7 linked regions of the Homo sapiens genome follow. The protein of the gene in region 2 interacts with the protein of the main gene of each other region in a pairwise test. Each region holds a gene or a part of one and is shown on either strand. Other genes may lie near its edges. The genes, in order: MAPK9, TCP10L, CCDC102B, CCDC57, BACE2, PRKCG and LMO3.

Evidence for each region.
Region 1: the proteins of TCP10L (region 2) and MAPK9 interact in binary tests that used the Homo sapiens proteins (3 or more experiments, as listed by UniProt).
Region 3: the proteins of TCP10L (region 2) and CCDC102B interact in binary tests that used the Homo sapiens proteins (3 or more experiments, as listed by UniProt).
Region 4: the proteins of TCP10L (region 2) and CCDC57 interact in binary tests that used the Homo sapiens proteins (3 or more experiments, as listed by UniProt).
Region 5: the proteins of TCP10L (region 2) and BACE2 interact in binary tests that used the Homo sapiens proteins (3 or more experiments, as listed by UniProt).
Region 6: the proteins of TCP10L (region 2) and PRKCG interact in binary tests that used the Homo sapiens proteins (3 or more experiments, as listed by UniProt).
Region 7: the proteins of TCP10L (region 2) and LMO3 interact in binary tests that used the Homo sapiens proteins (3 or more experiments, as listed by UniProt).

The regions. Positions count from the first base shown.
Region 1 is NC_000005.10:180,247,084-180,250,583, reverse strand, and holds part of MAPK9 (mitogen-activated protein kinase 9), read left to right. Parts: intron 1-1,445; coding exon 1,446-1,611; intron 1,612-2,657; coding exon of another isoform or gene 2,658-2,729; intron 2,730-2,855; coding exon of another isoform or gene 2,856-2,884; exon of another isoform or gene 2,885-2,921; intron 2,922-3,073; coding exon 3,074-3,145; coding exon of another isoform or gene 3,146-3,186; exon of another isoform or gene 3,187-3,500. UniProt on the Homo sapiens protein: Serine/threonine-protein kinase involved in various processes such as cell proliferation, differentiation, migration, transformation and programmed cell death.
Region 2 is NC_000021.9:32,579,024-32,582,523, forward strand, and holds part of TCP10L (T-complex protein 10A homolog 1), read right to left. Parts: intron 3,393-3,500; coding exon 3,177-3,392; intron 1-3,176. Other genes in the region: CFAP298-TCP10L (uncharacterized protein LOC110091775), read right to left, coding at 3,177-3,392. UniProt on the Homo sapiens protein: May be involved in transcriptional regulation. Has in vitro transcription inhibition activity. Acts as a tumor suppressor in hepatocellular carcinoma (HCC) cells.
Region 3 is NC_000018.10:68,796,696-68,800,879, reverse strand, and holds the start of CCDC102B (coiled-coil domain-containing protein 102B), read right to left. Parts: upstream 2,801-4,184; 5' UTR 2,699-2,800; intron 2,610-2,698; exon of another isoform or gene 2,428-2,609; intron 1-2,427. UniProt on the Homo sapiens protein: During interphase, forms fibers at the proximal ends of centrioles to maintain centrosome cohesion. During mitosis, dissociates from the centrosome following phosphorylation to allow centrosome separation. Contributes to CROCC/rootletin filament formation.
Region 4 is NC_000017.11:82,195,843-82,199,342, reverse strand, and holds part of CCDC57 (coiled-coil domain-containing protein 57), read left to right. Parts: intron 1-918; exon of another isoform or gene 919-920; coding exon 921-1,029; intron 1,030-2,246; exon of another isoform or gene 2,247-3,500. UniProt on the Homo sapiens protein: Pleiotropic regulator of centriole duplication, mitosis, and ciliogenesis. Critical interface between centrosome and microtubule-mediated cellular processes. Centriole duplication protein required for recruitment of CEP63, CEP152, and PLK4 to the centrosome.
Region 5 is NC_000021.9:41,174,660-41,178,159, forward strand, and holds part of BACE2 (beta-secretase 2 isoform A preproprotein), read left to right. Parts: intron 1-571; exon of another isoform or gene 572-3,500. UniProt on the Homo sapiens protein: Responsible for the proteolytic processing of the amyloid precursor protein (APP).
Region 6 is NC_000019.10:53,885,197-53,888,696, reverse strand, and holds part of PRKCG (protein kinase C gamma type), read right to left. Parts: intron 1-3,500. UniProt on the Homo sapiens protein: Calcium-activated, phospholipid- and diacylglycerol (DAG)-dependent serine/threonine-protein kinase that plays diverse roles in neuronal cells and eye tissues, such as regulation of the neuronal receptors GRIA4/GLUR4 and GRIN1/NMDAR1, modulation of receptors and neuronal functions related to sensitivity to opiates, pain and alcohol, mediation of synaptic function and cell survival after ischemia, and inhibition of gap junction activity after oxidative stress.
Region 7 is NC_000012.12:16,557,663-16,561,162, forward strand, and holds part of LMO3 (LIM domain only protein 3), read right to left. Parts: intron 2,877-3,500; coding exon 2,751-2,876; intron 1-2,750.

The sequences.
Region 1 (3,500 bases), on a different chromosome or scaffold from region 2:
ATGCCGCCTGCAACCCCCCTTGTGGCCCATCAGTTGGGGTGTCTTACAGGCAGGTGCTAGGCAGTGCTACTGAACCTGCAACTTCCTGGGTAAAGTATCCTCATGCCTTACGCCATGTCAGTGGCTTGGCAGTTTGACATTGCAGGTGCACTACTCTTGTGAAAAGAATGGGTGTGGGTTGTTTACAAGTCACAGTTTCTCAAGTGAGTTTGCAGGCCGAAGTCCCCAGGCAAAAGTCAAATTCCTAAGGCCTGAGGAAGGGGCTAGGGTGGAGGATCAGCAGGAAGAAAATCCCTTAGTTATGAGGGAAAAGGTTGCAGAAGTTGTGTTAAGGCTTTGCAAGTCAGGTGGAATATGATGCATGTCTTCATTCTGCAGACACTTCCCAAGTGTCTGCTCGCGCCAGGCGTGCTTCTGAGTGCTGAGAGCTCACACAGAGTCAGCACTGGGGAGGGAAGAGAGGTGGCAACCAGAACATGAGCAGGTGAGTTTTTGTGCCACGTACAGATGGAGACAGCAGCACCAGTGCTGGCGTGTCTTTGTGGCGAAGGTGAGAAGATTGGAGGTGGATGATCATGGAATTGCTCTTCCAAGGAGAGAAAGAGCCATGGGAAGATTCCAGGATCAGACGATTCTAGACCTGTGCTGTCCAGTATGGCAGCCACTAACCACAGGAGGCTGTGGAGCACTCAGGATGTGGCCGTGCTGCAGTTGTAAAATACATACTGGACTTCAAAGGCTCAGTACTAAAAAGAGAATGTAAAATATCTCAGTATTTTTCTTATGTTGATTACATTTTGAAATGATAATATTATGGATATATTGGGTTAAAAAAATATACTGTATGATTAAAATTAATTTCACCTATTTCTGCATGCTGTTGAGCATGGCTAGTAGAAAATGTAAATTATACACATCGTTCGCATTATATGACATTGTCTGTGGGACAGCACTGCCCTGGACTGACAGACAGCATGAGGACCTTAGCAAGAGAGAGTCAGAGTATTGGGGAACTCAAGTCCAGGCGTGGAGAGCAGGAGGGGGCCGTGTGTGCTGGACTGACAGCATGAGGACCTTAGCAAGAGAGAGTCAGAGTATTGGGGAACTCAAGTCCAGGCGTGGAGAGCGGGAGGGGGGCATGTGTGCTGGACGTGTAGATGCATGGATGGAGGGTAGATAGGACAGCCTGAGGGCCTGCGAGACCACAGAAAGGGCAAATGGGGGCCATGAAGGTTTCCACTGGGGGTAAGGGGCACCATCTGACGGCTTTAGGCTGATTTGTTTTAGTTTCAATTTGAGAGTAAGATTTTCCAAAGTTGTTCCCAAATCTCAGAGTTCAGTTCACTCCCTACACTCTCACACTGGCTTCACGACCCTCACGGATGTGAAGTAGTTTATTTAGCATGCTTCATTCATTTTACTAATTTAAGCCATTTCTTTCCTAGGATTTGAAGCCTAGCAACATTGTTGTGAAATCAGACTGCACCCTGAAGATCCTTGACTTTGGCCTGGCCCGGACAGCGTGCACTAACTTCATGATGACCCCTTACGTGGTGACACGGTACTACCGGGCGCCCGAAGTCATCCTGGGTATGGGCTACAAAGAGAACGGTGAGTATAGCCGGGGCTGGAAGAGGCTGGGATGTTTAGAAATTGCTCTAGCGGTGGTCTCGAGTTTTTTCTCTTTCCTTTGAACCATATGATATATACTGTGGGGACTGTTACACCCAGAATATAGCATGATCCAGAGATAAGAAATAATTAATTGTGTTTTTCCATTGGTTAAAATCATTCTCTTTTAAAAATTCACTTTTAAAATTGTTATTTTTGAACTTTTTAATCAGAGTTAAGCTGTCTATAGCCAAGTGTGCAAATCCTGAGTGTGCAGCTCAGCTGAGGTGAGCACACCCACAGCAGCAGCAGCTCTGGCCTCCCCATGGCCCCTCCTCGCAGCCCACGAGGCTGGCCAATCTCCTGATCTCCAGTACCATGGATCAGCTTTATTTGTTGGTCTGCATATTGTTTTTTTGAATTTGATGTAAATAGAATAACACATGTTTTCATGTAAAATTGGTGTCTTTTTACATCAAAACTTAGCTTATTCTAGCAATATCAGAGCTCTTTGAAACTTGGCTTTTAGCAAATTTGTTGAAAATAACGAAATCACGCTTACTTATTTTTAAAAAGACTGAAAGTTTGCCCGGGTCATCTGAAATGAGTTTTGCTACAGGTTCATCTTGCTGCGTTGTAGCTTGTGTTCCCACCCTGAGGGGCACAGCTTCATGTGCTTCCTGTGGAGGGGAGAGAAAACTTGATCCCCTGTTCACTTCTCCCCTCGGCCCGCCAGCAGGGCACTTAGAGGCCTCTGCTGTCTGTCTGAGGCCCCACAGATGAGGGTGGGCACCGTGGAAGTCTGGGCCCCTCTAGCAGGGCCTCACCTGCAGTCCTGCAAGCCAGCCAGCCTGTGCCGCCAGTGAGTGCTGCTGCCTTTCTGACGGGGCAGTCTAGAAAATGATCGCTCAGGAGGTGTGGTATCAACAACGCACAGAGGCTCCCGCCGGCAAGCTAGTGACGTGTACCGGGTTTGTCCTGGGAGGGGGTTTGAAGAAAAAAGATGGGGGACTCTAGCTGGTTTTTAATCCCCTGGTGTTTGGTAGTGGACATCTGGTCTGTCGGGTGCATCATGGCAGAAATGGTCCTCCATAAAGTCCTGTTCCCGGGAAGAGACTGTATCCTTCACAGGGGACCCGGTACTTGGCCATGGAGGCTGGGGTGGGCGTGTGGCCCTGAAAAGCTTTGTGTTCACAGGCACTTCTTGTTTCTGGTTTTTTGTTTGTTTGTTTGTTTGTTTTAAGCTATAAAGTATTGGACTCTTTGGCACTAAAACCCCAGATTGCTACAAACCGAAGGCTAAAATAGAGGTCAGCAATCATTCATATTGTGTAAAATGTCACCCTTAGCTAGCAATTTATTTTTCCATATTTGTGTGTTTAGTGCACTGTTAGAATTCCTTTTCCTCACTTTTGTTTTGTTCATGGCACTTCATAATTTTATCATTTCATTTTATTTTCAGTTGATATCTGGTCAGTGGGTTGCATCATGGGAGAGCTGGTGAAAGGTTGTGTGATATTCCAAGGCACTGACCGTATCCTTCCCCGCGACCTTGGCCCCGCCATGCTTTCTTAATGCCTCAGGCAGCATGACCACCTGCTTACACGAGCGCTCACGAGGACAAAGTCGTAAAATCCACTCCAGACTGTGTTCTAAGGGGGGCTTTACTGTATTTGTTAATTAGTGTCACAAGCCAAGTGGTTCAATTTCATTCTTTATTTTTAACTTGACTACCTGTGATGACTTTGAGACTTAGAGTTCAGTTAAACCGATTATATTAGCTCTTAATTTTGCCAAAAATAGCTGGACACATAGAAGAAATTATTTACTCTTTGATAAGTATATTCTGATATTTAAATGAAAATACTGTATTATTTAGTTTATTCCGT
Region 2 (3,500 bases):
GTGGAGCCGATGTTTGCTTTGTGTTTCTTATTGTGGTTCCTTGTTTCAAAATGATCACAGGATCCCAAAGGCTACAGAACAAACAATCCCCAACATATCTTCCTTTAGGCTCCTGTGTCTTCAACCGGGAGTGTGTTAACGGAGGAAGAAAATGTGATACTACTTCTAGTGTTGTCTCTACAACTTGTCTAAGATCCAAAATGCAAATTCCCAACTTTCCCTGTTATCAGCAGACTGACCTGGAACAGGGTGATCCTTCAGGTGGGATGAGGTATATTAGGTCTGGAATGCTAAATTATTCACCGTTCTGCCCTCTGAGGAGGAGAAGGGAATGAGAAGGGGAGAGGGTTGCTATGAACGAACCCTTAATATCAGATCCAGAGTGGCTCACCCACACAGCCATGCCCGCGTTCTGTGGGTGCTCGAGTCTCAGCCTTTTAGATATTCAGTCCCTAAAACGGCGACTACACACAGATACACCTTCGCATATTTAAAGTGTGGGATTCACATATCCCATCCTGTTTCTTCAAATCAGGTATGCTCTTGTGAGCGTACATCCTGTTCTTATAAATAGCCCCACGGTGACCAGTGCAATGCACAGAATGGAAAAATATTTGGAAATTCACCAAGCTCTAATCTCAAAATAAGAGAATGATCAAAACTGCAGGGCATGTGAAGACTGAATAAGACTTCATTGACTCTTAGGGTAATTGTTATACAATGACCCAAATGGGGCAGTAGATACTATTTTTTAGGAACTGGCATACAATATATGTAGGGAAAAAAATCCCTGTGAGTCTTCTTGGGTTCTCCCCACAGAAGGTGGACAATCCCGGCCAGTATTTGTGGCAATTTCCCCCACTCTTCCTCTGACAGAGGAACAGCCTGCCCAGCTTCTGCTCTTCCTTCCGCAGAAGGACTCGGCGCTTTGCTGTGCTGAGAGGCTAAACTCACTTTCTTTCTGAGGCAGCAGAAGCCATCTCCATGGAAACAAAGCTCTCGCAGAGCTCCCGAAGAGTGGGAATAACTTCCAAGATTTCCCGTAATTTCTTGTAGAGGAACTTGTGGCAGTTTTTTTTGTTTGTTTGTTTTGTTTTTTTCAGACGGAGTCTTGCTCTGTCCCCCAGGCTGGAGTGCAGTGGCGCGATCTCGGCTCACTGCAAGCTCCACCTCCCTGATTCAGGCCATTCTCCAGCCTCAGCCTCCCGAGTAGCTGGGACTATAGGCACCCGCCACCACACCTGGCTAATGTTTTTGTATTTTTAGTAGAGACGGGGTTTCACCGTGTTAGCCAGGATGGTCTCAATCTCCTGACCTCACGATCCACCTGCCTCGGCCTCCCAAAGTGCTGGGATTACAGGTGTGAGCCACCGCGCCCAGCTGTGGCTGTTTTTGCTGTGCTTGGAGAACAAACCACAGAGCAGTCTCCTCTGGAATGTATTCGGTGGGTGCCTGTGTGTGTGTGTGTGTGTGTGTGTGTGTGTGTGTGTGTGTTGTAATCACTGTGCTGTATCGGAAATATTCTAAGTCCTGGAAGTACCGATTTAAAAGTTCACACAATAAATGCAGCTAGGAAATGTTAGTACTTTTCTTAATCCACTAAGAAATATCCCCACTTACGTTTGGAGGGTGTTCATGTGGTTTCATGTGTTGTTACCTGTATGTATAATTTTAATGATTCAAGTTATTTAGATCCATATGCAGGAAACAGAACCCAGACAAGGCAGTGATAACACTGGCCACATTCACACTCTCTTAGGCTGGTTCTTTGAGCGGTGTGATCAAACGTGAAAGCTCAGTGTTCTGTAGAGGCAGGCTGGTGCTGGGAGGCACCCACTACTTCAGCATGAGAATGCTGGTTCTTCGTTCGGGATAGAGCAGGTTAGTGATACAGGATGGGGGCAGGAAAGTCCTGGGTGGAGAAGAACGGGGTCCCTGGCTAGGGCTCGACCCCTGGGCCTGTGCCCATGGACCTACGCATTTCTGCTTTTGTGCCCAAATGTTGCATTTCCCAAGACCACCGTGGCCTGCCACACTCCCATCCTATGCCTATAAAAACCCCAAGACCCTAGCGGGCAGAGACCAAGCGGCTGGATGTCGAGAAGAACACACCGGCAGAAGAGCACACCAGCAGACACAGCAGACGCCAGCAGGCCATCGACTGGCGGAATGACACGGAGTTTGCTTGGGGTGGTCAGGGGAGAGCCCGGTCACTGGGCAGCCCAACTCCCAAGGGGAAAACTGCCTTCCCACTCCATCTCCCTTCTGGCTCCCCCATCTGCTGACAGGTATCACCACTCAATAAAAAACCTTGCACCCATCCTCCAAGCCCATGTGTGATCTGATTTTTCAGGTACACCAAGGCAAGAACCCAGGATACAGAAAGCCCTCTGTCCTTGTGATAAGGCAGAGGGTCTAATTGAGCTGATAAACACAAGCTGCCTACGGAGGGGTAAACTGAAAGAGCTCCCGCACTGTAACACACACCCTCTGGGGCTTCAGCTGGAAACATTCACCCCCAGACACTGCCGTGGGGTCAGAGCCCCATAGCCTGCCGGTCTGTACACTCCCCTAGAGGTTTGAGCAGTGGGGAACCAAAGAAGCGAGCCACACCCCCATCGCACACCCTGCGAGGGGGACAAGGGAACTTTTCCCGTTTCAACAGGTCTCTATTGCATTCTACACAGCTGTCCTAGAGGATGAACAGAAGGACACCAGGCTACTGAGCTGGCTCTGGAGTCACCCTGGGTTCAAATCCCAGCTCTACGTTCTCCAGCCCGTGGCCACGATGGGGTTAGTAATAGGATCCATTTCATAGGGTCGTCATAGAGAGTAAGACCGTAAAGCTCCGTACCTAGCCCATGTAAAGTCCACAGTAAGGGTTTGCTGCTGTTGTCCTGAGACATCATGAGATGTCTTAGAATTCTGGACTTGAGACACACGGCCTGGGGGCGGCAATGCTTCTGTCTGCTGGAGTGCCAGGTGAGAGGCCTGATGTATCCAGTTCTTATTAATCATTACTTACGGGAAATGGAGTTGATGGAAAGATAGCAACCCCTCCCACCACCCGGAGCGTGAGTGATACCGCGTCATTCAGCAATAAAGCCCACATCTTTATGGGGACGCTATTTTTACATAACGCAAACGGTACAAAAACATAAATGCGCTTTTGGTACCAGAGTGTGCGATTCTTGCCCCGCGTGTGGGGACGCTGCAGATTTCTTCCTGGCTTTCCACCGCTGCAGCTGCAGAGCTCTCAGCTTTTCTCGGAGCTCCATGTTCTGCTCCCTCAAAGCATCTATATGACTCCGGAGTTTTCCATGAACATCAGCCCACAGAGACTTCTGTCTCCCAAGCTCTTGGTGGAGTCTGATGATCTGCTGCTGTAATGGCTGTTATTGGGAAGAGAACACCAGAAAAACCTCTCAGATGTCACAATGGGCACATTTATCTGCAAAATACTCAAGCCCTCTCTGATGTAAGACCAACACTATTTCTGG
Region 3 (4,184 bases), on a different chromosome or scaffold from region 2:
AACATGTTAATAAATAAGTTCTATTCTTTTTTACTGTGAATGTACTGTATTTCACACTATCTATTACAATGTGAATTTTATTTATGCTTTTCACCTATTGAAATGAAACTTATACAATGCCTTTATTTGATAATAACTTGGTCATTCCATAGTTTTAAGAGTATTTGGTCGCTGAGTGTTCGTTGATACCATGTATCAAAAAGAAACAGAGGAAAGTCAGTACATCCCCAGTGTTATTCCTGGCCACCTCACACATCTCATTTGTGAATAGGTAATATTCAGTGCAAATCAGTGATGACATTTTCTTTGAGAATGCAAAAGATACCTTCTCTAAGTAGATTTAAGAAAATGTAAGAGAGAGAAAAGCATAAGTGTTGAATCTGAGGGCCGCTAATTTAAATGTAAAAATTACCCCTTATTTGCAGCGTCAGTCTCTTCTCTCAATTCCCAAAGGAAAAGTGTGGCCCAACTGATAGAACAGTAATTCGTCTGGATTTATAGAATATCGGAATGGATCTTTGGGCTGTTGTCTCACGACCTCCTCCCTGCACCCTAAAATCCCAGTGTCCACTTCAAACCATTCTGCTCGACTTCTGCCAGATTCACATTCCTAGAATACCAGCACAACATCGTGGAAATAGCTCTGGAGCCAGAAAGACATTATTTGAAATTCTGGTTCCCTCACTTTCTTTATCTGTGGCTTTAAGCAAATCATTGAACGTTTCTGAACAGCAGGTTCCTTCAAGTGCAAAATGAAAATAATGTGTAAAATAATGTTCATTTTCTTGCAAAGCTATCAAAATTGTGGATATGTATGTAAATCACCTTGCAAGCAGAAAATGCTATTATGTGTTGGCAAAATGATGATGATGATGATTATGGTAAAGATGATGAAAAGAGGCACAGATACTCCACCTCTTTTCAGAAACTTGCAATTGTCCCCTTTGTATGATATGTAAAGGCCACATTTTTCTGTGTGCAATGTTAAGATGCTCTATCAATTTTTCCTGTTCTATGTATTGAGTACAACGTCTGATACTCACAAAGGTATATTTTTTCTGCTCCAATCAGATAAATTACTCACCATTCTTTTATGCTCTATGCTAATTTGTGTTCAAAACCCTTTTTGCCAATTACTTCTTCAAAGTAGAGTATTCCTCTTGCTTTCAGCACCTATCCAAGTTCCACTAGTTTTTCAAGACTAAGTTCAAGAAGTTGAACTTTTCTTTAAAGCCTCTGGCATCTCTTTAGGACTCACATACCTGCTAAAAAGGGAATTTCTGAATATTTTGGCATTATGGCAGAATTCAATTGGTCTTGTAATATCAGCATAAGAGATATGACGACCTGAGAGCATTTCTTGTATTTTAAGAATTACAGCCATTGTTTTGTAACTGTAATAATTAGATGAAACATTCATAAATTACCTTGAAGCCAAACCCATAGTGAGGCCCAGAAACAATGTCCCAGTGATCAAGCAATTATTGAATCCAATGATAACATATGAAGGATGCAAAAGAGAGACAATGAAATTATCTATGATTTCATAAGAACATAGGATATTTTGGAAAATAAAGCAATTCACATAAAGCATTTTTCTGAATATATTCAAATAGGTCACACAAACCTACACAGATATTGTATCGCTAACTTATAAATCTTCTTTCTAATTTATTGCTTTCATTAAAATATGAAATAGAATTCAAGAATATTTACTGGATATATAAAAATATTTATTGGCAATAACATATTTTACTAACAAGAGAATATTTACTCAAAAGTTGTAATAACACCATTTCCCATGAAAATTATTAGCAAAAACACATTCACATTATTTTAGAAAACAGAAAAACTGGTATTGATGTAAATAAGAATATCAATAAATATTTTATATATTTTGGTCCTATGTTACTGACATATTTCTAATTATATTTTTTGACGAATCTTTCTTATATTTATATTTAATAAATGTACTCACTTGACATTCAATTGATAATTTATCTTTGCAGAAAACGTAAGCAAATGCTTCCCAAAGGTTTCCAGAGATTTTTTTTCAGTTTTATAATTTACTTCTATATAGCTAAGCATTACTTTTTATTATGCACAGGATTTTATTATTTTATTCTGTATCCCTGTCTCCTCCACACTATACAGGTAGCATGTAAAGAAATCAATATTCATGCTAAGTTTGAAATATACTTTCCATTAACGAATACAAGAATTTAGCATGAAGACTCAACAATTGAAAAGAATTCAAGGTACATGAGGCATAGATAGGAGGATTTCCATAACAATTTTACTTTTTTACTGTAAGAATATAGATTACTTCAAACACAATGACTAATTCACATTCATTTGGAACAATGAAACAAAATTTTAATATCAACATATACTATTACTGTCTAAATGTAGAGTCGAAATTCTTACCTGAGTTTTGCTTAGTATACAGTTATTTTTTAAAGACAGGAAATGTATGACAAATTGTCAGGATAATAACACCCACAGTGGAAAAATGAAAGGGGAAAGGAAGGAATCACTTTAAAAAGAAACTCCAAATCCTTCTGCTTCCCAGCTCTACAGTAGTTTTGCTCTGCATCTTGTAAGCAACTGTCTTTGCTCTGAGAACAACACATGCTGTACCTCAGCAGGAAAATATAAAAATTAAATAGAAAACCACAAGGTTATTAAACACTCTTACCCTCTGGGCTTGCTGGGCTGCTCCAGTGTCTCAGTTGCAGCCACATGTGTAAACAACAGAATTTCCTGCATCCTTTTCTCATCCGTACAGTTCTGGAGTCCTAGCCAACAGGATTATTTCCAGCATTAAGGGCACTCCACACAAACTCAAAAAAGATTCCCATTGGTTGTGAAGTTTTATTGAAACCACTACCACAACCCCCTCTTTGGATCACCATTGAGCCAACCAAAATAAAACCATTTTTAATGTTCCCTAAGTATGGTTATCCAAAGCTTTCCATACAACCATTTGAAACCTGTACTGTGGATGAAAAAGAAAAAGACACCCACGCCTTGATCCACAAGTGTTCTTAATGTTTAATTACAACAGTATAACTTGTAATAATAATAGAAAAACTAAAATAGCAAAGCAAAAAAAAAAAAAAGCCCAGGAAGTACCTATCTGAAAAATATTTAAAAGGAAATTATACTGCACATTACAGGAACAATATAAAATATTCATCCAATCTGATTTGCATTAGATTGCACAAAAGCAAAAGAAATCATATTTAATAAAAGATTTGAGTATACAAATCATGAAACAATAACTGCATGTCAAAACCCTTGATTGTGGTCACATTGGCAGGAATTGTGAGCTGTAGTCCCCGGGGTGCCCAGTGAAAGCTCTCTGGCCCCTTTCCCTGGGGAAAAAGAATATGAAGTAGCTTTCCATTGACATGACTCAGCTGTCAGGAAGTGTTCTGATGGGGGTTGAGGGGGGAGGCGAGAGATCACATAAAAAAGAGCTTCTCTGGTTGAAACTAGCAGCAAAAAAATGTCCAAAGTAAAAAAGAAAAGTCAAAAGGTAACAGGATAGCCTTGCTCCTTTTAAGTAGCAAAAAAACAACATTTGAAATTTAGGCAATAAATGTCTTCAAATTATTTTATTTTTCACCCTTCCCTAATTTGTAGGCTTATTACGGTGTTATCATCTATCTCTACTTAACATTCTTTTCCCACTTACTTTCTGATGCAATGGAAAAGGTGGCCATCTTCCTGTATAAAGCCAATTGACCCATCGAGCTAAACTTAATCATGATTCTCTCTCCTCTATCTTTGAACGTTCCCTCCTGTCCGGATTTTCCCCACGTGATGTTAAATACCATACATTCTCTAGTCAATTTCATGTATGCCAATGAACTTTACTTTTAATTCAGTCATTTTCACTTTCAGGTACCATTCTTTCTGTCATGGCCAAATGATTGAAAGTTCTCCAGCCAAGAATTTTATTTAGTCTTGCATCCACCTGATTTTAATTCATCAAAGTGACAATACACACACACACACACACACACACACATGCATGTACATAAATATTCTATTTATTTTTAATTTTTCTAACTCACCTCAATCCTTCTAGTTGACATCTACACAGCCTTTCATACTGTTCACAACCCTGCCCACATGAAGACATCTCTTGTCTTGGCATAACACTCTCCTGGTTTTCC
Region 4 (3,500 bases), on a different chromosome or scaffold from region 2:
CCATGCCCGGCTAATTTTTGTATTTTTAGTGGAGATGGGGTTTCACCATGTTGGCCAGGCTGGTCTTGGACTCCTGACCCCGGGTGATCCACCTGCCTTGGCCTCCCAAAGCGCTGGAATTACAGGCGTGAGCCACCACACCCAGCCTGCTATAGCTTTTTCTTTGCTGAGATTTGTTTTTCCATTTGCTTTACTAGATTACTTGAAGCGCTTTTATAATGACTGCTGTAGCTTCCTTGTTGAAGAATTCCAGCGTCTGTGTCATCTTGGTGTTGGCATCTACCTATTATCTTTTCTCCTTCAAGCTCAGATCTTTCTTTTTTTTCCTTTTTCTTTTTTTTTTTTTTTTTGAGATGGAGTCTCGCTCTGTCGCCCAGGCTGGAGTGCAGTGGCACGATCTCAGCTCACTGCAAGCTCCACCTCCCGGGTTCACGCCATTCTCCTGCCTCAGCCTCCCGAGTAGCTGGGACTACAGGCGCCCGCCACCACGCCCGGCTAATTTTTTTTGTATTTTTTTGTAGAGACGGGGTTTCACCGTGTTAGCCAGGATGCTCTCGATCTCCTGACCTTGTGATCCGCCCACCTCGGCCTCCCAAAGTGCTGGGATTACAGGCGTGAGCCACTGGGCCTGGTCAGATCTTTCCGGTTTTTGGTTGTCAGGTTTTTTTTTTAATTGTATCCTGGACATTTTGGGTTTTATGTTGTGAGACTCTGGGCCCTATTTAATTTCCTCTTTTATAGATGGGTGTAGCATGCTGGTCCAGGTGGGGCTGGAAGTTCTGCTACCCCGTGGGTCCTGCTGAAGCCACCCCTTCATAAAAGCAAAGCACCAACTTTCACATGTCAAGTGCACCTTGAAAATGTATTACCTTTGCTGAATATTTGGTATGGCTTTTCTTAATGCTGTTTTATTACCATAGTGACAAGAATGGTGAGATTGACCACCACCGGGAACAGTATGAAAATCTAAAATGGACACTGGAGAGAAAACTTGAGGAGCTCGACGGTGAGCTTGCTCTGCAGAGACAGGTAGAGCCTCTGGGTCGGCCCCTTCCTGGGTGCTTTCCCTGCCTGCCCACTGTGAAACTGAAATCATATAGGGCTGAGGAAAAGACAACCATTTGGTTCATTGCCTGCATTCTCCTTGGGAGTAAAATGGGGTCTTTGGGGCAGATGCCACTCTGGGATGGTCTGCAGGGAAACAGGATGGGATGTCTACATGCAGCCACCTCCACAGTGTTTCCTTGTTTTCTTTCCTCATGGATTAGTCAGGGTTCTCCAGGGAAACAGGCAATAGGAGACGTGTAGATATATAGGAGATAAATTGTAGGAATTCACTCGTGCAGTTACGGAGGCCATGAAGTCCCACAGTTTGTCATCTGCAAGCTGGAAAACCTGGGAAGCTGGTGGTGTAATTCAGCCCAGGGGCAAAGGCCTGAGCACCAGGGAGCCACTGATGTGAGTCCTGGTCCAGCTCTGAAGGCCCAAGATGCAGGAGCCCAATGTCCAAGGGCAGGAGAAGGCGAGTGTCTCAGCTCAAGCAGAGAGAGCGAGTTCACCCTTCCTTGCATTTCGTTCTATTCAGGCCCTCAGTGGATTGAATGACGCCCATCCACAGGAGGAGGGCTAGTCTCTTCTGGAAACACCCTTGCAGACACTCCCAGAAATAATTTTTTACCAGCTATCCGGGCAGCCCGTAGCCCAGTCATTTGACACATGGAATTAACCAGCACACCTCAGAAATGATGAAACTTTTAAATTTATTTTTAGAAAGGTATAATTTTAAAAACATGAATTATTTACTATGGAAAAGAATTTGGAATTCAATTATGATAAGTTTAAAAACAGATGCTTCAACTGAAAAGTGGCAGTCACCGAATTTCTCCTCAATGTTCTGGAAACTCAGCCTACACCTCCAAGAGACTCAGCTGTGCTGGGGTTTTGTTGAAAGACATCCTATAGATTTATATCTAGAGACCACAGTCAGAGATGCTGCCACTGTGTGCATATGTGACAAGGGGCTGCATCTCTGCAGGTTTACGTGTGATGAGGGGCTGTGCCTGTGCAGGTGCAGGTGTCATGAGGGGCTGCGTCTCTGCAGGTGCAGGTGTCACGAGGGGCTGCGTCTCTGCAGGTGTCATGAGGGGCTGCGTCTCTGCAGGAGTCACGAGGGGCTGCGTCTGCAGGAGTCACGAGGGGCTGTGTCTCTGCAGGTGCAGGAGTCATGAGGGGCTGTGTGTCTGCAGGTGCAGGAGTCACGAGGGGCTGCGTCTCTGCAGGAGTCACGAGGGGCTGCATCTCTGCAGGAGTCATGAGGGGCTGCGTCTGCAGGAGTCACGAGGGGCTGAGTCTCTGCAGGAGTCACGAGGGGCTGCGTCTCTGCAGGTGCAGGAGTCACGAGGGGCTGCGTCTCTGCAGGTGCAGGAGTCACGAGGGGCTGCGTCTCTGCAGGTGCAGGAGTCATGAGGGGCTGCGTCTCTGCAGGAGTCACGAGGGGCTGCGTCTCTGCAGGTGCAGGAGTCATGAGGGGCTGCGTCTCTGCAGGTGTCCTGAGGGGCTTCTTCTGTGAAGGTGCAGGTGTGATGAGGGGCTGCGTCTCTGCAGGTGCAGGTGTAATAAATGGCTCTGTCTATGCAGGTAGGTGTAAGTGTTACTAGAAGCTGTGTCTATGGGGGTGTCATAAGGGGCTGCGTCTGTGCAGGTGCAGCAGTGATGAAGGGCTTTGTGCAGGTGTGACAGGGTCCCCTCTCTGGTCCTGTCGGATGTTGGGAGCTTGGTCATAGTAGGATAGGCCAGTGTGTCACTAATTTGCCACAGTCAGGTCAGCAGAGAAGGAGGCCACGCTCACGTCATGATGGGCCCTCCTGTGGACTGTCCAGTTGTCCCCGGAAGTGCTGAGCTCACTCCCGTTGTTCACAGGTCCCTGAGGCTGCTTCTGAAATGGCCTGCAGAGGACTTTCTCTTGGAATTCTCAGAAACCAAAGAGCTTTGTCGATTATGGATGAGTTTGAGAACAGCCGGAGTTCTTTAGGCATGAAGCCAGCGTCTAAAATCCGTGGTCAGTAAGAGACCAGTGGTGACTTTTCTAAGTAGTGAGGCTTCCTCAAGTGGCTCCAAAGTCACTTCCAAAGAAGGAGTTTGAGGAGGATCCAGCTGTGGGTGGTCCTGCCCAGCAGGTGGGGGGCTCTTGGCAGCATCTGGGGACAGTGGCGATTTGAGGCTGGTTGTAGTTGGCAGGGCGCAGCCATTCTTGTCAGAGTTTCTGGCTGGGCCGTGACTATGGCTGACTTCCCAGGCTGTCCACGCCGAATTTCTCAGACTCAGCAGGGCTCGTTCAGGGAGAGCCATCTCAGACGTTGGGAACATGGATTTTTTATCATGTTCAGATAGTATCCTTGTCTCTGGAAAGAAGGAAACGTGACGTTTTAACGTGGCAGCTTTGGTTACTAGGGGAAACTTGGGCAGCACACATCCGGTGTGGTTCTGGGTAGTCCGATCCT
Region 5 (3,500 bases), 8.6 Mb from region 2:
ACTCTTGCCCCAACCCCACACTGGGTACAGCAGGAACGGGGTGGTGGTCCTCCTTGCTGGTGAGTGAGGTCCCTCTCCAGGTGACCTGAGGCTCCTATGACTGACTGTGAGCCTCTGCCTGTCCTTGAGTCCCTTGCTGTGTGTCATGGATCCCTCCTCTGGGTCACCCTGTTTGCCCAGCCTTGGTGAGACACTGGGGTTCATTGTATGTTAAGGTAACAGATACTACCCGGACAATAGGGCATACCTGTGAGGCAGGTGGGCAGCCTGGCACCCCTTCTGTAATTTCCCTGGGTATAAACATGTTTCTGGTGGAACCTGAGGAAGAGAGTGTCACCTCTTCTGGGTGACTTTCCTGGCCTGGCTCCCCTTCATCCTCTCTTGGCCTAGATGTACTAATTTGATATTTGACTATTGCTACTCAATACAAAAAAAAGTGGTCACTTTTTTGCTCTTAGAATTCTCAAAAGAAGAGAGAATACTCTGGGAGTGCTGACATTAACCACATAAAGGAAATGAAATGAGTGTGTTTGTTTTGTGCTAATGCTTGCTGTCCAGCCCAGGCCCCGGGTGGGATGTTTTCAGATTTTTATTATATGGCAATCATATACCTGCACCTAGAAATATACAACCTCGGCGCTGCCATTGCAGGAAGACAAAGAGACTGTCTAGAGAGTAACGTGGCGATGCCCTGGGCAGCTCCATCATTCCAGGGTACCATAAAGGGAAGTGGGAATGCACACTCCATCTGTTTCACGCTAGGCTGAAAGTGGCAGGGGGAGAATTTACACCTGGCCTGCAAAAGGCAGCCTTGTGTTCCCACTTCAGAGCCCCAACTTCTCCAAAGCCAGTGCTTGGGAAATGGCCTTGTTGGCAGCAGGCAGGAGACTGGTGCAGTGTGCCAGCTGTGCAAACCCCCACCAGACTGGTGCAGTGTGCCAGCTGTGCAAACCCCCACCAGCAGCACCCCCACCAGCAGCCAAAGAAAACAATTTCTAAAGCAGCCCCCAGGATTTCATGCCACGGGGGTGGTGAGGGGTAGGAGGAGGTGGAAAGCATTGAATCAGAAAGTCTTCCAGGTACCAGCAATGCCAGGGTTAATATGGTCTGGCTTGCTTTTCAGGTGAGCACCTGTAGCTGGCAGGAAAGTGGCTTCTTGGTGGAGGTGGGCATGAATTCCAGAAGCCTTGGAGAGACATCCAGAGCCCTTCCCACTACATCGTGCTGCCTCCTGGGGAAATTCCTAAGCTTTTTTTGAATCAGAAAAGCCACTGACAAGCAGACAGAATTGTGTGGCTTGCGCAGTGATTGGAGAGCTAGGTGCTTTGGGTACTAGTCCCAGAGCTGCTACTTGTCGAATGTTGGGTATTGGAGAGAAGTCATTTGAGCTGTCTGAGCCTCTGTTTCCTCATCTGTAAATCAGGGAATTTGAACAAGTGACCTCAGATTCCTTCTAGAAGCTCTAACAGTCAATGATATCATCTATTTCATTTGAGAGAATCTCCATAGCTCTAATTTTTTGCCCCCAGACCAATCTGCTTCAGCTTTGTGTGGGTGCAACACCTGGGGTCCTGTTAAAATGCAGAATCGGATTCAGTGACCGAGAGCAGAGCTGAGGGTGGCTGCTGCCAGCTCACAGGTCACACTTGGAGTCGTTGCTTCTTTCCCCAAACCAGCTGCCGATGGTTCCTGGAAAGAGCAGGAATACCTTGCAGAAGGGCCTAGAAATAGAGATTCCCATATGCAGTCCAGACTTATTGGGTGAGCCTGTCTGCACTAGGACCTGAGAATCTGCATTTTATTATATCCCTTGAGTCCCCTTTAAGCAGCCACGCTGGCCCCAGCCATTGGACTCTATTTGGAGGCCACTGCAGAGGCCAGATGCCCCTCTGCTCGGCGGTTTCCTGTGCAGAAAGGCTGTGTTCTTTCTTCTTCCTAAATACTCTTCCTAGGTTAAGTGTTTCCTTCTCTTTGCCCATCTAGAAAATCTCCACCTCAAGCAGGTCGTGTTCCAAAAACTCCTCGTGTTGGGCAAGTGGAAAACACGCAGTTTTTTCTAGGGGTCTCATTCTGAGGCGGTGCTGCTGAAAATCTTGGTGCTGAACGTGTGTTTTTGAGATTTCCAGTCTATCACAGGGCCACAAGGTGTAAATATCAAGAAAAATGAATTACTAGAAAGGCAAAGTGAAAAAGACATACAAAATACAAGTGTCATTCTTTTTATTCTTAGTTTGGACAGATAGTCCATTCTTCTACACTGGTCCCACGGTTTCTGAAGCTTCCTGTAATGATCAGTGGTTACCTTGTTGCCCAAGTAACTGCAAATCCCTCCTCTACAAAGTGTGCTTGCTCCAAGGCAGTGCAAACTAGAAGTTGTTACAAATGGTTCCAGTAACAAATTTGTTTGGCGGCCTTTTCCCATGAATGAGACAGTGGTTATTTTTGCTAAAGCAGAAAGGAAATGTGATACTATTGGGCTGTGTTTTGCCCTCTGGAGTAATCCTGCTTGGGGAAAATGGAGGCTTGTTCCAGAATGCAGAAATCCCTGTTAAATTAGGCAGTCTTGGGCTGGAGGACGTGTGCCTGCCTCCCCAGTGCCTCACAACTCACATCTCTAAAGGCCACTCAGGTGGGACACCATCAAGACATTGAAAATCGACAGAAGGAAGGCAGGAAGGGGAGAGGATCGAACCTGTCAAAATAGATATTCAGAAAATCTGTGCTCTAAAATAAGGCAGCCCTTCCCTCACAGCACACTTATTCCTAATTTCAACAGGACTCCTAGTCTTGCCCCACAGCGTCACAGCCTACAGCAAATTAGAAACTGGGGTGGGGGGCGGATATTATTCCACCAGTAATACCCTTGGGACGGGGCACACAAGATGTTTGCCCTCCTACCTCTCTGTCACCTTCCCAAGAAAGGGTCAAGATGAAACAGTGTGCGTTTATGGTATTGCGAGAGTTAAGTGAGCTGCGGTGTATTAGAACCTTAGCCTCGCGCAGCGTCAGCCGTGTGGTAAGTGTTCCATAAATCTTCGTTTAGAAAAAGTGGCAAATTCCAGGCTGCTAGTAAACAAAGGAGGGAAGACAGACAAAACGGAACAGCAACAACAGAAAACCCAAGAACTAGATGCCCAACAATCTGGGTCTGTATCTTGAAGGAATGTGCATCCTGTCCTCTGACTGCAAACCCAGGCCTTCTGTGGCCCCACGATGCTGCCTCCTAGCCCTCCTAAGGTGGGAATGGAGCTTTACCCCTTGGTGGCAAACAGACCTGGCTCCATGGATCTCAACCTGGGGTGATTGTGTCCCCACCCCAGGGGACATCTGGCATCCTCTGGGGACATTTTGAGTTCTCACAACTTAGAGGGTGCTACTGGCGTCCTGTGGGTGGAGACTGGAAGTGCTGCTCGGCATTCTTTGCCGTACAGGGCAGCCCCCACAACAAAGAACGATCTGGTCCAAAATGGCAACCATGCCAAGATTGAGAAATCCTGGTT
Region 6 (3,500 bases), on a different chromosome or scaffold from region 2:
CAGGAGGCCTAAATAAAATAATTGGTGTACAAAACATAGCTGTGCCTACCACGTTAGATGCTCCCAATACTATTACTGTGGTTATTGTTAGGGATTTTATTGAAGTCCCTACATAGCCCTGAATGTAAGTAAGAGCTAGGCCGCTTCTCAGCTGTGTGATTTGGGGCAAGTTCATTCCCAGTTTTGAGCCTCAGCATCCTCCTCTGTCAAGTGGAAATAAATAATCTATATTTTGAAGCAATGCTAAATTTCCAGAGTCCATTAAGCAAGAATGCAGGTCATCAGTGAAGCTTCTCCTTCTCCCCTGCCACCCACTACCCCCGGGACAATATCTGCTTGTTAAATAACTTGATTCTAAGAATCCATTAAAAGGATTATCACAGGGTGAACATTTAGGCCATTCTTGGATTTTCATCTATGTTAGTGGGGTTTCTAGTTTGAATATATATTTGGGTAGAGGAGGGTGTTGGCAGTTTCCAGGATCCTTTTCAATGTGCTGGGCTTCTAAATATCTCCGCTGACCCTAACTCAAAGGGTTCCTGCCGCACTAAATAAGATGCTGTGTGTGAAGGTTCTCAGCAGGCTGCCTGACACACAAACCATCCACAGACAGAGGCTGCTGTTCTTATTCTCAAAAGTGAACGTCGCTGTTAAAAAGGAGACAGCACGGAGGCTGTGGTTACATACATCAGAGTTCAAATCTTGCCTCTATCCCCTACCCAGCTAGGTGGCCTCACCACGCCTGCCCCTTTTCAAAGCCTCAGATTTACCGCTTGAAAAGTGGGGGCATGTGCCCTCCCTGGGGACTAAATGAAATCATTCTTGCCAAATCTTGATCCATGTTACTTTTTTTTTTTTTTTTTTTTTGAGATGGAGTCTCACTCTGTCGCCCAGGCTAGAGTGCAGTGGTGTGATCTCGGCTCACTGCAACCTCTGCCTCCGGGGTTCAAGCGATACTCCTGCCTCAGCCTCCCGAGTAGCTGGGACTACAGGCGCGTGCCACCGTGCCTGGCTAATTTTTTGTATTTTTAGTAGAGACGGGGTTTCACCGCGTTAGCCAGGATGGTTTGGATCTCCTGACCTCGTGATCCGCTTGCCTCAGCCTCCCAAAGAGCTGGGATTACAGGCATGAGCCACCATGCCTGGTCAAGGCATGTTACCTTTTTTTTTTTTTTTTTTTTTTTTTTTTTTTTTTTTTTGAGACAGAGTTTTGTTCTTGCTGCCCAGGCTGGAGTGCAATGGCGCAATCTTGGCTCACTGCAACCTCCGCCTCCTGGGTTCAAGTGATTCTCCTGCCTCAGCCTCCTGAGTAGCTGGGATTACAGGCGTGTGCCACCACGCCCAGCTAATTTTGTATTCTTAGTAGACACGTGGCTTCTCCATGTTGGTCAGGCTGGTCTCGAACTCCCAACCTCAGGTGATCCACCCGCCTCGGTCTCCCAAAGTGTTGGGATTACAGGCGTGAGCCACTGTGCCTGGCCTGCATGTTACTTTTAAGAAGATCAACTGCCAGCAGTGAATCACTTGAGCCCCGGAGGTCAAGACTGCAGTGAGCAGTGATAGCACTATTGCACTCCAGCCTGGGCAACAGAGTGAGACCCTGTCTCAACAGCAAAAAAAAACAAAAACAAAAAAACCCCCGAGTGATGCAGAGGAAAGATCTCCTTCTCACTATTCACTCGTTTCCTCATTGGTCATAATAATAATTTTAACAAGAATAAAAAATAATATTTTGGCTCTTGCTATGTGTCAGAAACCATCCCAAATGTCTGACTCACTAAATCTTCAAAACAATCCATAGTGAGCATAATTATCATCTCCACTTTACAAACAAGGAATTCAACAAGTGCAGAGAGGTAAATTAACTCAGGAAATGTCACAGAACCAAAAAGTGGTGGAGCTGGGATTCAAACCAGATAGACAGGGAAAAATAACCAAATAAGCTGTTGTGTGGATCCAACCTATACTGTATACAAAATACTTGAGGCCAGGTGCAGTGGCTCACGCCTGTAATCCCATCATTTTGGGAGGCTGAGGCAGGAGAATCGAGTGAGACCAGGAGTTGAAGACCAGCCTGGGCAATATAGTGAGTGAGACTCCATCTCTACAAAAACATTTTTTTTTAATTAGCTAGGTGTTGTGGCTTGTGCCTATAGTCCCAGCTACTTGAGAAGCTGGGGCAGGAGGAGCACTTGAGCCTGGAGAATTCAAGGCTGCAGTGAGCTATGATCCCATCACTGTACTCCAGTCTAGGTGACAGAGTGGGACCCTGTCTCAAAAAACCCCAAAAATCGGCTGGGTGCGGTGGCTCACGCCTGTAATCCCAGCACTTTGGGAGGCCGAGGTGGGTGGATCACGTGAGGTCAGGAGCAAGACCAGCTTGGCCAGCATGATGAAACCCTGTCTACTAAAAATATAAAAATTAGCCGGCCATGGTGGCTCATGCCTGTTCTAGTCCCAGCTACTCGGGAGGCTGAGGCATGAGAATCGCTTGAACCTGGGAGGTAGAGGTTGCAGTGAACCAAGATTGCACCAGTGCACTCCAGCCTGGGTGACAGAGTGAAACTCCATCTAAAAAATACCCCAAAATCAAACAAAACAACAAAAACAAAAAAAAATCTTTTTTTTTTTTTCCAAGACAAAGTCTTGCTCTGTCACCCAGGCTGGAGTGCAGTGGCGTGATCTTGGCTCACTGCAACCTCTGCCGCTCAGGTTCAAGCAATTCTGCCTCAGCCTCCCGAGTAGCTGGGATTACAGGCAAAAAACAAAAAAAAAAATCTTGATGAGTGTACCCAATGAGCACTGGATGCATCAGACTTATCTGGTGTTGGTGGCGGAGGTGAGTGGACGAGGGGGGTCATCAATCACATACACGTGCTGGTAGACAGTGGTGCTCAATATATGTTCTATGAAGTCACATCTTCTATGTAGACTTCTGTTATTTTCAGCTGAGAGGGTGGTAAAACGCCTCATGGACTTCTGTGGATCTCTCTCTCTCTGCCTCTCTCTCCATCTGTACATCATAAAACTGTCTCCGATCTTGTGTCAAACCCTGGGCGAAACTCTGAACCCACCTGACTTCAAAACAAGCCTGGAAGTGTCCAGATGTGTGCTGTCCCATTTGGTGGCCACTAACTACATGTGGCTGTTTAAATTTAAGTCAGTTCTGCCGGGCGCGGTGGCTCACGCCTGTAATCCCAACACTTTGGGAGGCCGAGGCGGGTGGATCACAAGGTCAGGAGTTCGAGACCAGCCTGGCCAACATGGTGAAACCCCATCTCTACTAAAAATACAAAAAAAATTAGCGGGGTGTGGTGGCATGCGCCTGTAGTCCCAGCTACTCAGGAGGCTGAGGTAGAAGAATTGCTTGAACCTGGGAAACGGAAGTTGCATTGAGCTGAGACTGCGCCACTGCACTCCAGCTTGGGCAACAGAGCGCGACTCCGTCTCAAAAAATAAAAATAAAAAAAAAAAATTTAAGCCAATTCAAATGACACGAA
Region 7 (3,500 bases), on a different chromosome or scaffold from region 2:
ATTTGGTAAATTATAAAAATAACTAACTTTTGAGAACCAGTTGTGTTCCTGACATTTAACATAAATTATTTTATTGAAGTTTCAGACTCTGCAAGAGAGGTATTAGTGTTTCTATTTTGTAGGTGTGGGAATCAAATTCAGAGAGATTAAGTAACATACTCAAGATCACACAGTTAATATATCAGCTACTATATGGTGGTGCTGAAATCTGAATCTCTTCTCACTATAAATGTCACATTCTTTCTACTATTCTACAGGGTCTCATAAGGTCCATTTTTATATTGATAATACTGATAATATTTACAGCACAAAAACTTTTGAAGATACAACTTATATATCTGATGATAGAAGACATATGTGAAGCTCTGTCCATAAAGCTGAACTCAGAAAAGCTTAAAATATCTTAAAAGAATTTTTAATGGCAGGTAAAAAAGGCACAAAATATAAATTGAGTGAAAAAGTCCAAATATCAAACATTAGGATTCTCCCTTGTAACTTTAATTTGCTTAAATGTGAGTGTAATATTTATACAATGTCATTTGTCCTATAGACATAGGAACATGTATGGCTGGCTATATATCAAAATATTAAAATGTTTTCTTTTAGAAGAATGAGACATGGGACAATGTCTTGTTTTTATCATTTTCTATTTTCTAAATTTCCTACTATGAATATGTAATCTTTTATAAGTAGAAAAGCAATGACTTTATGATTCCATAATGGGAACTGCATGGTTACTGGCTGCTATTAGTTGATCAACATGACAAGTCAACAAAAGTATTCTAAATTTACTACTAAGACACCTTTAAAATGTATAAAATACATATATACATGCACATAAAGGTGTCTGTATGGATGTGGGAATGTTTGTGTTTGTATATCCTTATCCCTACCAAAAACATGTGCATTTGCCAATTTATTTTCGTCTAAATGTTACCCTAGACTGAATGAACTTACTTTGATTCTCAGTACTTGCTGGGAAGAGTCAAGACATTGTAAGATAACATCTTACATGACTGTCTGGGTAACTATTACATTATAAGGTACATTAGGCAACAATCTGAATATCTACATTTAGCAAGAAACACTATTGTGATACATGCCTTGTGGGAAAGTCAAGTTAATGGAATATTATTTGGTAAATTATAAAGATAACTAACTTTTGAGAACCTGTTGTGTTCCTGACATTTAATATAAATTAATTATTTCATTTAAGTTTCAAACTCTGCAAGAGAGGTGTTAGTGTTTCTATTTTATGGGTGTGGGAATCAAATTCAGAGAGATTAAGTAACATACTCAAGATCACACAGCTAATATATCAGCTAATATATGGTGGTGCTGAAATTTGAATCCCGTTCTCACTAGAAATGTCACATTCTTTCTACTATTCTACAGGGTCTCATAAGAAGATTCTGCATCAAATAGTACCTTTCAGAGTAAATTACAATAACTGAGAACTTGATGCAACTAATATTTATTGATTATATACTCTGCCAGGTGTTCTCACAGAAAGTCAGTGAATTCATTTTCATTAAAATCTATCAAGTGTTCTAATTTTTGAAATGTTGTATTTTTAATACGTACATTTTAATGTTCTAAAATCCTCTCCATTTATCATATAAAACAGGTGCCAGTAGTATATAGTTTTCACAGAAATAAAAAATATAACTTTCAATAAGAAAAAATGGAATTAAGTGATAATACTTTTCAGCTGAAAGAATTCTCTGAGATGAACTAATCCAGCTTCATATGTTACAAATGAAAAACCTGAGGTCCAGAGAGGGAAGGTGTTTGTTTGGTTTAAGATCGCACAGCTTATTAGTGGCAGAGCCCATATTAGAATTTAGGTTTCCAGGTTCCCTGTTCAACACTTTTTCAAATGCTCCTCTCCAATGATAATAATTGTTTAATTATTAGCTATATCTGGACTGATTCTCAAAGATATTTGAAGTAACTGCAAAAGTACATATAGGACAGGGTTAAAATTTAAGGTAAACAGCTAGATTGGGTGGGGGTGGTGGCTCATGCCTATAATCCCTGCACTTTGGGAGGTGGAGGTGGGAGGATTGCTTGAGGCCAGGAGTTTGAGACCAGCCTGGGTAACATAGTGAAACTCCATCATCTCTATAAAAAATGAAAAAAAAAAAAAATTAGCCAGGCATGGGAGTGCACACCTGTACTCCCAGCTACTCGGGAGGCTGAGGCAGGAGGATTGCTTGAGCACAGAAGTTGAGGCTGCATGAGCCATGTTAGTGCCACTGCGCTCTAGGCTGGGTGACAGAACCAGACCTTGTATTTAAAAAAGCAAAAACAAAAACATGAGGGATAAGGAATTTAAAATATAAAAAATAATAAGAATATAAAATACCTGCAACAAATTCCTGTATATTTGCTTCATTGCCAATTTATTTACTCACATAAGTAGTATAAAAAAGTAGATATTTAAAACTACTTTTAAAAAGACAGGAAAATAATAAAAGAAGGAATGAGTAAAAGAAGTCAGAGTTTACGGTAGTGTTTCCATTTTCTGTTACTTGCTCTTATATGATGCTTTTCTTTCAGGTAGAAGTAAGTCTTAAGACCTTTCTTCTCCTTAGTAGCTTGTCTCTGGCATGGGATTAAAGTTTACAGAACAGAAAAACGCTGAGATTGATTGCTTTAAATGTATGAATATAATTTCCACCTATTAAATAAATAGCCAGCACAGAGAGGTTAACCATTTCTTAGAGACCAAAAAGAGACCTGCTTACCTCTGATTACAAAGCTGACATGCAAAGCAGTCCAGGTGGTAAACATTGTCCTTGGCACGCATCACCATCTCAAAGGCAGGGATGAGCTTACTACAGGCAGCGCAGTTTCCCGTTACACCAAAGAGCCTAGAATAAGAAACATTTTTTTTTTTTTACAAACTCTTACAGAGAAATCTGAGATCGTGAAGAGAGATGATGTTAATATACTCTGTAAAGCTACAATACACAATGCTTTATGATGTACACAAGTGGATTTTATCCTAGGTGTATGCATAAATATTCTTCTGCAATATATTCTCCGTTGACCTTCCTTGATGAAAATCACATCTTGTTTGAGAAGAAAAGGAAAAGACAAATACATTAGGAAGCTTACGTAACTGCACATAAACAGAAGTCAATGGGGGTGAATTCATAGCAAAAATCTCTGGGTTAGAGTATATAGAAAATATAAAAGCAATATAACTTTGCTCTTAATGTTATATATTAAACATTTTAGTTGGGAAAGGAACCAACTAATGAATGATTCACTACTTTTTGACATTTAGTTACTAAAAGGTTTGCCATTATTATTAAAAATACATTTATGAAGAAGCCATTTAAATAGTCAAAAAACATAGAGGCGCATGCATGCACCTTATGGCTCTATACCATAGTTATAGCTATGATTATGTTATTCAAGTAGCACATTAAAGTAAATGAGGCTGTAAACTATATATAGCTAGACCAGAAATTGAAGGATAATATACTGTC